Linked DNA regions of Homo sapiens: region 2 is linked to region 1. The links come from fine-mapping of genetic effects on gene expression. A gene starts in region 1. The other region holds a variant in brackets. All regions are shown on one strand. Distances are between the middles of the regions.

Region 1 (5,384 bases):
AGTGATGTGCTGTTATTCCTGTTTCTCCCTGTTTTATTTTCAACTTGAGTTTACATCTGCATCCTCTGAGATAAGCAAAGATGCCCTATGCCAACATTTTTACCCAAGATTTTGTTTTAAAAAAAGAAAACACTAAAAACCATTAAAACAACTTAGGAATCACAACACTTTATTAGTTAGAGTTTCTAACATAGCACTGTTATGGCTCATTCACTTTTGCTTTACACCTAAGGGAGTAAGTGCACAGCCAAGGCTAATAAAAACTAACTTGGCTATTTCTTGGTTTTTGATGGAACCATTCATATGATAAATATACATTTTTTCCCATTATACTATACTCTTGCAAAATAATTTTTTTCTACAAAGGTTATGAGATATCATAAAAATGTCTAATGCATCTGGTTTAAGAATCCAATGCCTCTTTCACATATTTCTGCATCTGTTCACAAAATCCCTTTGACTTCAAAGGAAGCTTTTCAAGAGAAAAAGAAGATACATACAGGAAAAGTGGCCATAAATTTTTAGTAGTCCTTTTCTAAGGCCATTTTAATAACAGCATTGTGGGACAAGTATCTTCCTCAGAATCCTAAAATATCACAAATGATATTAATGACTAAAGATCTGTATAAAGATTTATGATTTCAAAACGTTTTTCTGGTTATTAAAAAGTGTGTGTCTTCAATTTAGACATGTGAAAAATATGTAATGCTATAAAAGGAAACAAATAACTTTTAACCCACTATTTAGGAAGGCCAAAGCAAAATAAAAAAGTTAAAAATGTTTGTTCCCTTCCAGGCTTTTTTTCTATGTATACGTTTATATAAACACTTATATATAAACATAACATCGTAATAACACTATGAACACAATTTTGTATCTTTTCTCAGTCTTTCAAAAAACCACATTAATCTTTCAAACCATCATTTTCAATGACTGAAATTATATGTAGATTTATACTTTAAAAAAATACTCTCACATTTAATACTTATTCTACTCAAAGCTAAATTAAAGGTTTAGAAACATTCATCGGTACTGGAAATTCTACATCTTGAAACAATCTAGATTAATAATTAACTTTAATAGCCCTATTCATAAATGCCACTGAAACAATAGTAGAGGTTTAAGAAATTTTTTCTTTAGCATTTATAATGACTTAGTGTCTTAAACTTCCCTGGGCAGTCATTAGCAGGCTGCAGTTTGTCTTTTTTTTCTCTCTCTCTTTGATTCTCTATTCTCAAGACATCTTCAATTCTTTAGTTTGGAATAAGGGGAAGTTTGGGTCTACGGCTTAGCTACTTTGATAGCATAGGTGTTAATGTGCTATAAATTATAAATAATCATCTCATTCTAGTTCTGCAGAATCAAACCCTCAAATTTCAAGGAGAGGAATTTTTGATAAATTTATCTAATTTTGAATTGTCTTACCTAACATTGCTGCTGAAATTTAAGGTGACATTTGAATAGTTGTTTGCTGACAAGCAGCTTTCCGGTATATATTAATATATTAGCTTATAAGAATTTTGTGAGGCTCACATTAATAAAAAACGGAAGTTCAAAAAATTTATGACATGACTAGAAAAATAAGTTGAACTTAAATTTTGGTTTTCATAATTACTCTCATTGGCTTTGTTTTGGCTTCATAATCATGGAACTATAGATTTTCCAGAGGTTGAAAGAACATTAACGTGTCAATCAGTCCAGCTCTCTTCCTCCACTCAATATGAGCAAAAAAAGAAGAAAAGTCCCAGAGAGATTGTGACTTGTCACACAGCTGTCAAGTGGCAGACCAAACCCTTGACCTCTAGGCTACCTTCCTGTCTAGCGCTGTTTTCAACACAACAGTTACAATAGGTGCGACATCCTCACACCTACTCATTATGGCAATACATATGCAAATGATGCCGGGAAATTACCTAATAAAATCACATTCTCTCCTTTCTCTCTAGTTCCCAGAATATATCTCCCGTAGATAAAGTATGTCAAAGTGCTTGCCACTGAGACTGTACTTGGAAGACGTTTGGTAAAATCCTGAATAACTGAAAGGGTATCCCCTCCCCCTGACTTTTTTGCTATGAGGGTAAAATTCCAAATATTTAAGACAATTCCCAATAAGACCAGGCCGCGACATGGTCTCCGTACGACGAGATTAATGGTAACAGCAGTGTTGTCAAGCGCAGGACAGGACAAACTCTGTAGCAGCTTGCGGTCACTCTTTCACAGCCTGCTAGATAGAGCAGTGCTGTGGAGCCACCAGGAGCAACCAGAATGGAAGATGCACTGACACTTGCTCAAGTACCACACTGCCAACCTGCTGCCCCGACCCAAGCTGCCCAATGCCTAACAAAACTTCTCTACTCTCTCCGATAGCCCCTTAGCGTGTTGTTAGGGTAAGGAGGGTAAAAACAGTAATAAGACCACAAGAAGAGCAGTCTCTAAAACAACCCGTCTCTGAAAACATCACACGCGGGGTAGGCTCACCGCGTTGCCCGGCAACAGCGGCGGCGCTCCGCTCCCAGAACTGGAGGTGGCGGCAAGAGGTCAGAAAGCGGCGCGCTTTTTCCACCAAGAAACCTTTACGTCATCACGTATCCTTGCAACGTCACTACGCTCTGAGCAGGCCGACAGTCATAGACGAGTAGACCTTAGGCGAGGGAAGGCATGTACTTTCCCTAAGAAGCGGGAGGAGAGAAATAAATAGAGGGCAGTGGGATGAGAAGAACCTCGCGGGATGGGAAGCCGCGGAGGGAAGGGCCGTCTTTGGTTACCTGGAGAGCGGGAGCAGCTGCGGATCCCTTATGAAGTGCCCGGATGAAGCTCCAGCGCTCACGCGCTTTCCGCATTGAGTGCAGCGCCATCTTGAGAAGGGCGGAGCCGTCTTGTTTGGAATGACGTCTGTTCAGAGAGCCAATCCCAGTCTCGCGACTCCTGCTTGCTGGGCGCGGCTTGGGCCTCCAGGCTGCGCAGCGCAGCCGCTATCGGGCGGACTGCAGTTCTTGCCGAGCAGGTGGGGACAGGAGCGGGGTGGGGCTTTAGTGTTTTTCCCTGGATCCCTTGTCTGCTCAGCCTTCCTGGAAGGAGAATTTCCTTGGGGGTTATTAGTAGCAACGCTTTAGACTGGAAGAAAGTCAAGTAGGCTGCATTTCTGATCTTAGCTATGTGAAGGCAACCTTTAAAAAGTTTGTTTAGAAACTCCCAGTTCTCTTAGAGGGTAATATAAGTGGTCTTTTTAGACATGTGTGGCCTCATTTCCCTTTTTTTTCTTTGAGACAAGGTCTCACTCTCGCCCAGGCTGGAGTGCAATGGCGCGATCTCGGCTCACTGCAACCTCCACCTCCCAGACTCAAGCTATTCTCCTGCCTCAGCCTCCTGAGTAGCTGGGACCACAAGGGTGCGCCACCACGCCCGGCTAATTTTTGTATTTTGGTGGAGACAGGGTTTCACCATGTTGCCCAGGCTCTCTCAAACTCCTGAGCTCAAGCCAAGCCATCTGCCTCGGCCTCCTAAAGTGCTGGGATTACAGGCATGTGCCACCGCACTGGACTTATGTGGCCTTATTTCATTCGTCCTGTAAACTTTGTTGAACCCTACCGTAATGTGCTGGGCACTGAAGGTACAGAGAAAGACATATCTTGTCTTCAAGTTGTGTACAGTCTAATAGAGTAGCGGATAAATAAATGATGTACACTTAATAGGTGTTAAAGAAGCAAGCACCGCAAGTTTTAAGGAGGAGTGGTTATGACTGTGGTGTTTCAACCTAGTCTAGGGAAGGCTGCAGGAAGGTTATACCTGATGGAAGAAATTGTTTTGTTTGGGGTTATGAGAAAGTTTAATACAGTTTTTCTGCTTCTGTTAATTCACCTAAAAATCTCCCAGACAGATAACGAGTGTTTCAGTAAAAATATAACTGGAAGAAATTCATGACAATTCCTTTATGTGTTTTGTTTATAATTCATCCAGCTACTGAAAATTACCAAGGAGAGGTAGGAGATAAGAGATGCCTATAAAGGAGCTGAAATCTACCAGGGTAAGACAAAACAGTAAATTAAAACCATATAGGATAATCTTGTAGGTATACAAAGTACTGGTGAAGTTCAAGTATAATTGGTGTAATTTAGAAGTGAGCAGGAAAGGGATGAAGGCAAAAAAAAAACTAGGAAATCAAGTTATAGTCTTCAACAAAGCTGATCAGTTTGGTTTTGGCTGTTAAATTTGAGGTGCTTGTAGTACTTCCAAAATGTGATGCCCATTAAATAGATACATGGGTCTGGAGCTCAGAAGAGATTTGAACTACCAAACAGATGGTAATTGAAACCAAGGAAATCCTTGAGACCATCAGATAGAGTTTGTGGAGTGAAAGTAGCCAGATGATGGAAATAAAGGAGCCAAGAGGTGTTGTAGAACCCAAAGAATGTGATATTACTGAGACCCTGGAAACAAACCTTGCCAGGGGAAGGGGGATATATGTTATGCCTTGTAAAATGCAGTTTAATAAATGCCCTACATGTTTTACTCATACATAGAGCAAAGCATTATAGTACAGTGTTTTACATATATTTTATTAATGAGATTACATGACCCTAGCAATTAGCAAGATTAGCTTTCTGACATCTTTAGTCATCTAGATAGCAAGATAAAACCTAGCAATAAGACTATGGTGCACCAAAAGCTGTCAAAGGGTGTACCTACTTTATTTCTTCAAGAAGTAGTTCTTAGTCGTATCTGCAGACTCCTATGACCAATAATATTTCCGTGGGAGGTATTTCCAAGACATAGTCCCACTAAAAAAGGTGGGACTTTAAGACCACAAGTTTTATAACTTTAGTATCCTGATTTTTAAAATTGAAAATATTTGCTAATTTTTAGACTTTGTTAGAAGTAATAAACTGTGTTTTGCACCGTGGCGGTGACCTGGTAACTCTCAGGTGTCACTCAGCCAGCCTTGCTTCTTGGACAAGGACTATAGTTTATATTTCTAACATCTCCCCCAGCACCTAGAATAGTCTCTTATGCAGAGTAGGCACCTCTTTTAAAAGTAAATTGGATTTTAACAAATTACACAGCTTATTGTCAGCAATTGTTATGCTTTTAACAGCCAGAAGGAACAGTTAACAGAAAAGACACAGGATGTATTAAAAATGAACCAGTTCTGTCTACTTTTGTACTTTTTCACAGTAAGCATTTTGGTGTTGGGGAAAGTATGACTACAAAGCTCACCATCTTCTAAGAGGAGGAATATATTCAGCTCAGTATATTTAACGTATTTTAATAAGTTTTTAATAATGGTAACCATGACTCCTCGGGGAAAGATATATTATTCAATGTATCTTTGAAGAAAAAACCTACAATACACTTTTGAAATGTTTTCATACAAAATGGTTAACATT
Region 2 (5,384 bases), 79 kb after region 1:
TTTCTGCCTCCATCATCATTCTGCTTGTCCAGTGTAATAAGTGATCTCCCCATTTCTAAACATGTACCCCTTCCTGTGGTACTTAGGTTAAAACTCTAAGATCCTTATCATGGTCTACCAGGCTCTTCATATTATGGCCCTGCTTCTCCATCCCTGGCTTGCACCAGGGTTCCTCTTACCCCCTGCTCTGGACATACTCCCTGCCCAGAAACACACTCCCCTGTCCCTAGCCTGGCCAATCCCTCCACATTCTTTCTCACTGAAGCCTTTCCTAATGTGGAACTATCCAACAGACTTCCCTGGGTAATCATTCATCTCACCCTTCACTCTCTTAGCACTCACATAATGTATAATTATGCATGTATTTGTGTGGTTGGTTAATATCTGCCTCTTAGCTCTAGGAGTTACTCCTTTGTTTGCCACTTTAGCTAGCATAATGCTTTGTACATAAGAGTTGCTCAATCAATATTGATGAAATTAGTGAGAGGTTCCCAGTCTCACTGTGGAGACAGATACAGAAACAATAGCAATGAGAGGAAAAGCCAAAACAGATGTATGAAAACAGATGTTGGGAGCACAAAAAAGGAAGAAACAAACTCCACCTGGGGAACCCTCCCATTAGCAGGTAACAGAAAGAGTTGCTCACTGATTAGCTAACCTCCATTTGAATGTTATTCTCTGACAGTTGACAATGTTGATGGCACTGTGTTGCTGTTTAACACACAGGGAAGGAGCTGACTTTCTACCAGATATTAGATGCAAAAGTCCCAAAGGATTCAAGGAGGTAAACATGCATCTGAACTCCTGGCTCACACACAAAGGACAAAGGCACCTCTGAAGGGGGCAGACGTCTTCTGCACCCACAGTCCTGTTTATTTTCTCCTCCAGTGGAGGGGGTAACATAGGTCAGCTGGAATGGTGCATCCTGATGAATATTTATTGACCCAAAATGTCATGCTGACAGACATGTGGACAGGCAGAGAAAGATTTCTCTTACAGAGGCCTTCCTTCTCTGCTCCCATGGTTCTGACACAGCTGACATTTCCCTACATGGGTCCTGACTTCTCCAGCTGCTCCTGGGGATGCTGGTGTCTCTCTGATGGGGTCACTGAAGACACTATTCCACATTCTTTCTTGGGGGCTGTGCTGCCACTCTGGCCTCTCACAAATGGTGGTCTTAAGATGTTGGTTTCCCATTCTTCCAGCCAGCACATGCACAATCAGCTAGCCAGTCTCAATTCCAGTCTCTTCTCCACCAGCTCTTCCCCCTCCTCCTGGATTTCATTGTCAGGGTCATAGGTGGCCAAAATTAACTGTGCATTTTGAAGAGGGAAGTCCTAGGTGACACCCAAAATCATCTTTGTGATTAAAAAAATGGGTTCTGTTTTTGCTATGAAAAATAGATGTGGGGTCACAAATGTGACCCTTTTCTCTCTTACATTCCTAATATTTTTCTCCATTTTCTGTTTTTTCTTTCCCATTTCTCCCATCAAAGCTTGTTTTATTTAATTTTTATTTAAAAAACTTTTTATTGTTAAATATATTGTAAGTACCAAAAAACCATGAAAAGAGAATGTGCAAGTTAAAATAATGGTTTTAAAGGTATAACTCTTGTAAACACTACCCATGATAAGAGAACTTTTCCAGCCACCTCAGAAGCCCTCTACATGCCCATCTCTCAAACATCTCCCCTCTTCCAGCAAAAGTAACCATTGTCCTAACTTTTATTGCAACCACTTCTCACTTTTTAAAAATAGTCTTATCACCTAAGTGTATATTCCTAAACACCTGTTTAGCTTTACCTGTTTTTTATAAATATCTTTTAAGTGCCTTTTAATCCATAGGCTTCCCCTTCATCTCCTTATTTTTCCTTACAATTAATTCATTGAAAGAAATGCAACACTTAATCTAAAGAGGTTCCTACAGTTTAGAATTAGCGGGTTGCTTCCCCACAGTAAAGTTTACTCTGTGTTTCTGATTGTGTCTAAGTGACCAATCCAGGTCCTCCTCCTCCTTCTTCTTTCTTCTTTCTTCTTGTTTTAAAGCATAGGACCTCACTATTAGGTGCTCTTCCTTAGAGGTTACGTATGTCTCAATGTCTCTCTTTTTGTGATGTTAGTAGTCATTGATGTTTAATAGCTTTGATTTTTGCAAAATTTGTGAGTCCGCAGCTTTCTGATCAATCTTGCACTGCTCTGTAATCTCGTATTTCTCTTTTTCTGTGTCAAGGATCTCACCTTCCTGATGTCTGGGCTTCTGCAGCTTCTTCTTTGTGAAGTAAGCATCAGTAAGATGTTTTGGGGTTTTTACATTGCTGATATCAATTCTGGTTGAGGTGCAATGACAAATTTCTGGTGTGTTCTTTGTAGAGGAACTCGATTGAGGACCAGAGGTCCAGTCACAAGTACCAACCAAGCCGCTAGCCAGCTGCTTCAGGAAAACCACCCTCTTGCTCCTGTGGTGTCCAATGAGGATGATCAGAATGGTCCTGGGGGTGATGCTGGCTCGCAGTTTTCTCACGTGCCAACTGAAGGGTATTTTGCCATGGCTCAACAGCTTTTGAGGCACGTCTTCAGTAGGATAATATCTAGGCATTTTGTGAAGTTTAATCACCCAGATACCACCATTCTTGTCACCACTAACTGGTTTTGTAACAGTTGCAAGAAGCTTCTTTTTCTTTTCAACCTTGGATTTAGTGGCTGAGTACTTCCTCTTGTACGTGGCCTTTCTAGAATACATAGCAGATCAGGAATATGTGCCAATTCTTCTGACAAGGGCAGGATTTCAGCTGCAAC[G/A]GGGCTTCCCCTTCTTGGGCTTTTTAGCCCTGAGGTTACCCCTTTCCACTTTGCCACCAGCATTAGCCTTTTTGGCTTCGGGCTTCTTCTCTTTGGTATGCAGCTTCTCAACTTTTTCACCCATCATCTTGCAGGATGGGAAAGAGAACTCGAATTTGTTGAAATTTAAGTACCCATGTGGTTTTTGTTTCTTCGGTGGCACACTTTGCATAGTAAAAACAAAAGGAAACCTTAAAAATTTTAAACTTTTATTTACCAATTTTCCAAAAACTAGTTGGTTCCCTAGCATCTTCTGAAGATAATCAATTTAGGTTTTTTGGCAGGGGGTGGAAGTGGGGATGGGGGCAATTTTATTTTATTGTGGTAAGAACACAACATGAGATCTACCCTCAGGAAACTTTTAAGTGTACAAGACCTTATTGTTGCCTGTATGTTCTATATTGTAATGCAGATATCTAGAGCTTATCATCCTGCTTAACTGAAACTTTATGCCTGTTTATTGATAACTCCCCATTTCTCACTTCTCCCAGTTCCTGGCTACCACCATTCTATCCTTTGCTTCTATCAATTTGACTATTTTAGATACCTCATATAAGTAGAATCATGCAGTATTTTTCTTTCTATGACTGGCTTATTTCACTTAATGAAATATCCTCAAGGTTGATATCTTGTTTCATATTGCAGAATTTCCTTCTTTTTAAAGGCTGAATAGTATTCTATTGTATGTATATATCACATTTTCTTTATCCATTCATAGTTTGATGGATATCAAGGCTATTTCCACATCTTGGCTATTGTGAATAGTGTCTCAATGAACAGGAGAGTGCTAATATATCTTCAGGATCCTAATTTTGATTATTTTGGATAAATACCCAGAAGTGGGATTGCTGAATAATATGGTATGTGATTTAGTTCAGCTTTTAATTTTTTGAGGAAACTCCATGCTGGTTTTCATAGTAGCTGTAGCAAATTGATTCCCATCATCAGTGTGGCAAAACTGAAAATCTTGCACTCTGTTGGTTAGAATCAATTTGGTTTTTTAGAGCTGATTTTAAAGTAGTTAAATAGGCAACTACTCATGTTGCACTTTGACATTCCTTCCTCTCTCACACACATCACAGGGAGAGAGAGGATTCAAGGAGAAGAAACCCACAGCCTCTGAGTCAGGGGAGAAGTTAGGCCAGCAAAAATGTTGGGACCCAAGGAGGAGCTCAGTAAGCAAGCAAGCAAGCCTCAGAATTGCTCAGGGTGACCTCTCCTCTTCAAGTCAAATACCTTTGTGTCTAAAGAGGATTATGTTGGCCATGCTCCCTTATAGTCAACACATGGGAAGGTATTAAAAAGAGGCCTCTCTGGAGACACTTTGGTTTCCTTTCATAGTCAGCATTGGATCCCTTCATGAGATGGAGCAATATCTTCCATTAATTCACGTTCCTATGTTCACCCTCCTCCCCCACACCCTACAGGGAATGTCTGCAAACATCAAATGCTTCTCAAGTCACCTCCAATGCTGATTGGTGTCTCTCCTATTTTTTTCCTTTAGTAATAGCTAGGGACTGTGGTTTGGGGCTGCTTTGGAGTATGAGTTGGGGGGTGAGATGAAGAGGCAAGTAGTCTAGCAAAACTTTTCAAGTTGAGATTAGAGTTTCCAGCAGGGTCCTAATTGTCCTTTGAACAAGTCTAAAGTCTTCTTCTTATAATTTTTTAATTGATGTATAATTCACATGCCTACAATTTACTGTTAGGAAGTGTGCAATTCGGTGGCTTTTAATATATTCAAAAGGTTGTGCAGCTATTATCACTGTGTAATTCTAGAATATATTCATTGCTCCTGAAAGAAACCCTGACACATTAGCAGGCAGTCTGCATCCTCCCTCCTCACTCCACCCAACCCCTGACACCCTCTAATAATCCACTTTCTGTCTCTATGTGTTTTCCTATTCTGGGATTTTCACTTAAATGGAATTACATAATAAGTGGACTTCATATCTGGCTTGTTTTACTTATCATAATGTTTTCAAGGTGCATCCATGTTGTAGAATGTATCAATACTTCGTTCCTTTTATGGCTGAATAATATTCCATAATATGGATGTAGAACTTTTTATTCATTTACTCATCAGTTGATAAAAATTTGGGTTATCTCTACCTTTCGGTTATTATGAATAATGTTTCTATGAACATTTCTGTATATGGTTTTGTGTGAATACATGTTTTTAATTTTCTTGGATATATAGCATTACTAGGTCATACAATTCTGTTTAACTTTTGGAAAAACTGGCAAGCTGTTTTCCAAAAAAAGCTGCATAATTTTATACTCCAAGTAGCGTTGCAGAAGGGTTTCAGTTTCTCCATGTCCTCACCAATACCTCTTACTTTCTGTCTTTTTAAATCTTAGCCATTGTACCTGTGTGAGCGGTATCACACTGTGGTTTTGATTTGCATGTCTTTTGTGACTAATGATGTTGAGCATTTTTTCATGTGCTTCTTGACCACTTACGTATCTTCTTTGGAGAATCTTTTTTAAAAAAGTACTATACATTTCCCTAGAGAGATTTGTTTGTTGTTACTAATTCTCTCTAGGTTCTTC

The links. PIP is the estimated chance that this variant, and not a neighbour inherited with it, causes the effect.
Region 2: its variant is fine-mapped to the expression of WARS2-AS1 in spinal cord (GTEx, PIP 0.97).

Annotation. Positions count from the first base shown.
Region 1 is chr1:119,137,790-119,143,173 of GRCh38, forward strand. WARS2-AS1 (WARS2 antisense RNA 1) reads left to right here and starts at 2,607. Exons shown (of 7, transcript NR_125975.1): 1 at 2,607-3,004; 2 at 3,958-4,024. WARS2 (tryptophanyl tRNA synthetase 2, mitochondrial) reads right to left here and starts at 2,864. Exons shown (of 6, transcript NM_015836.4): 1 at 2,766-2,864. The coding sequence starts at 2,855. RefSeq lists an enhancer at 2,636-2,945.
Region 2 is chr1:119,217,175-119,222,558 of GRCh38, forward strand. The region is part of intron 4 of WARS2-AS1 (WARS2 antisense RNA 1); the gene reads left to right. It also overlaps the pseudogene RPL6P2. Among named protein-coding and RNA genes, the nearest start is that of WARS2, 79 kb to the left of the region's middle. The variant G/A (reference allele first, on the strand shown) is at 2,796.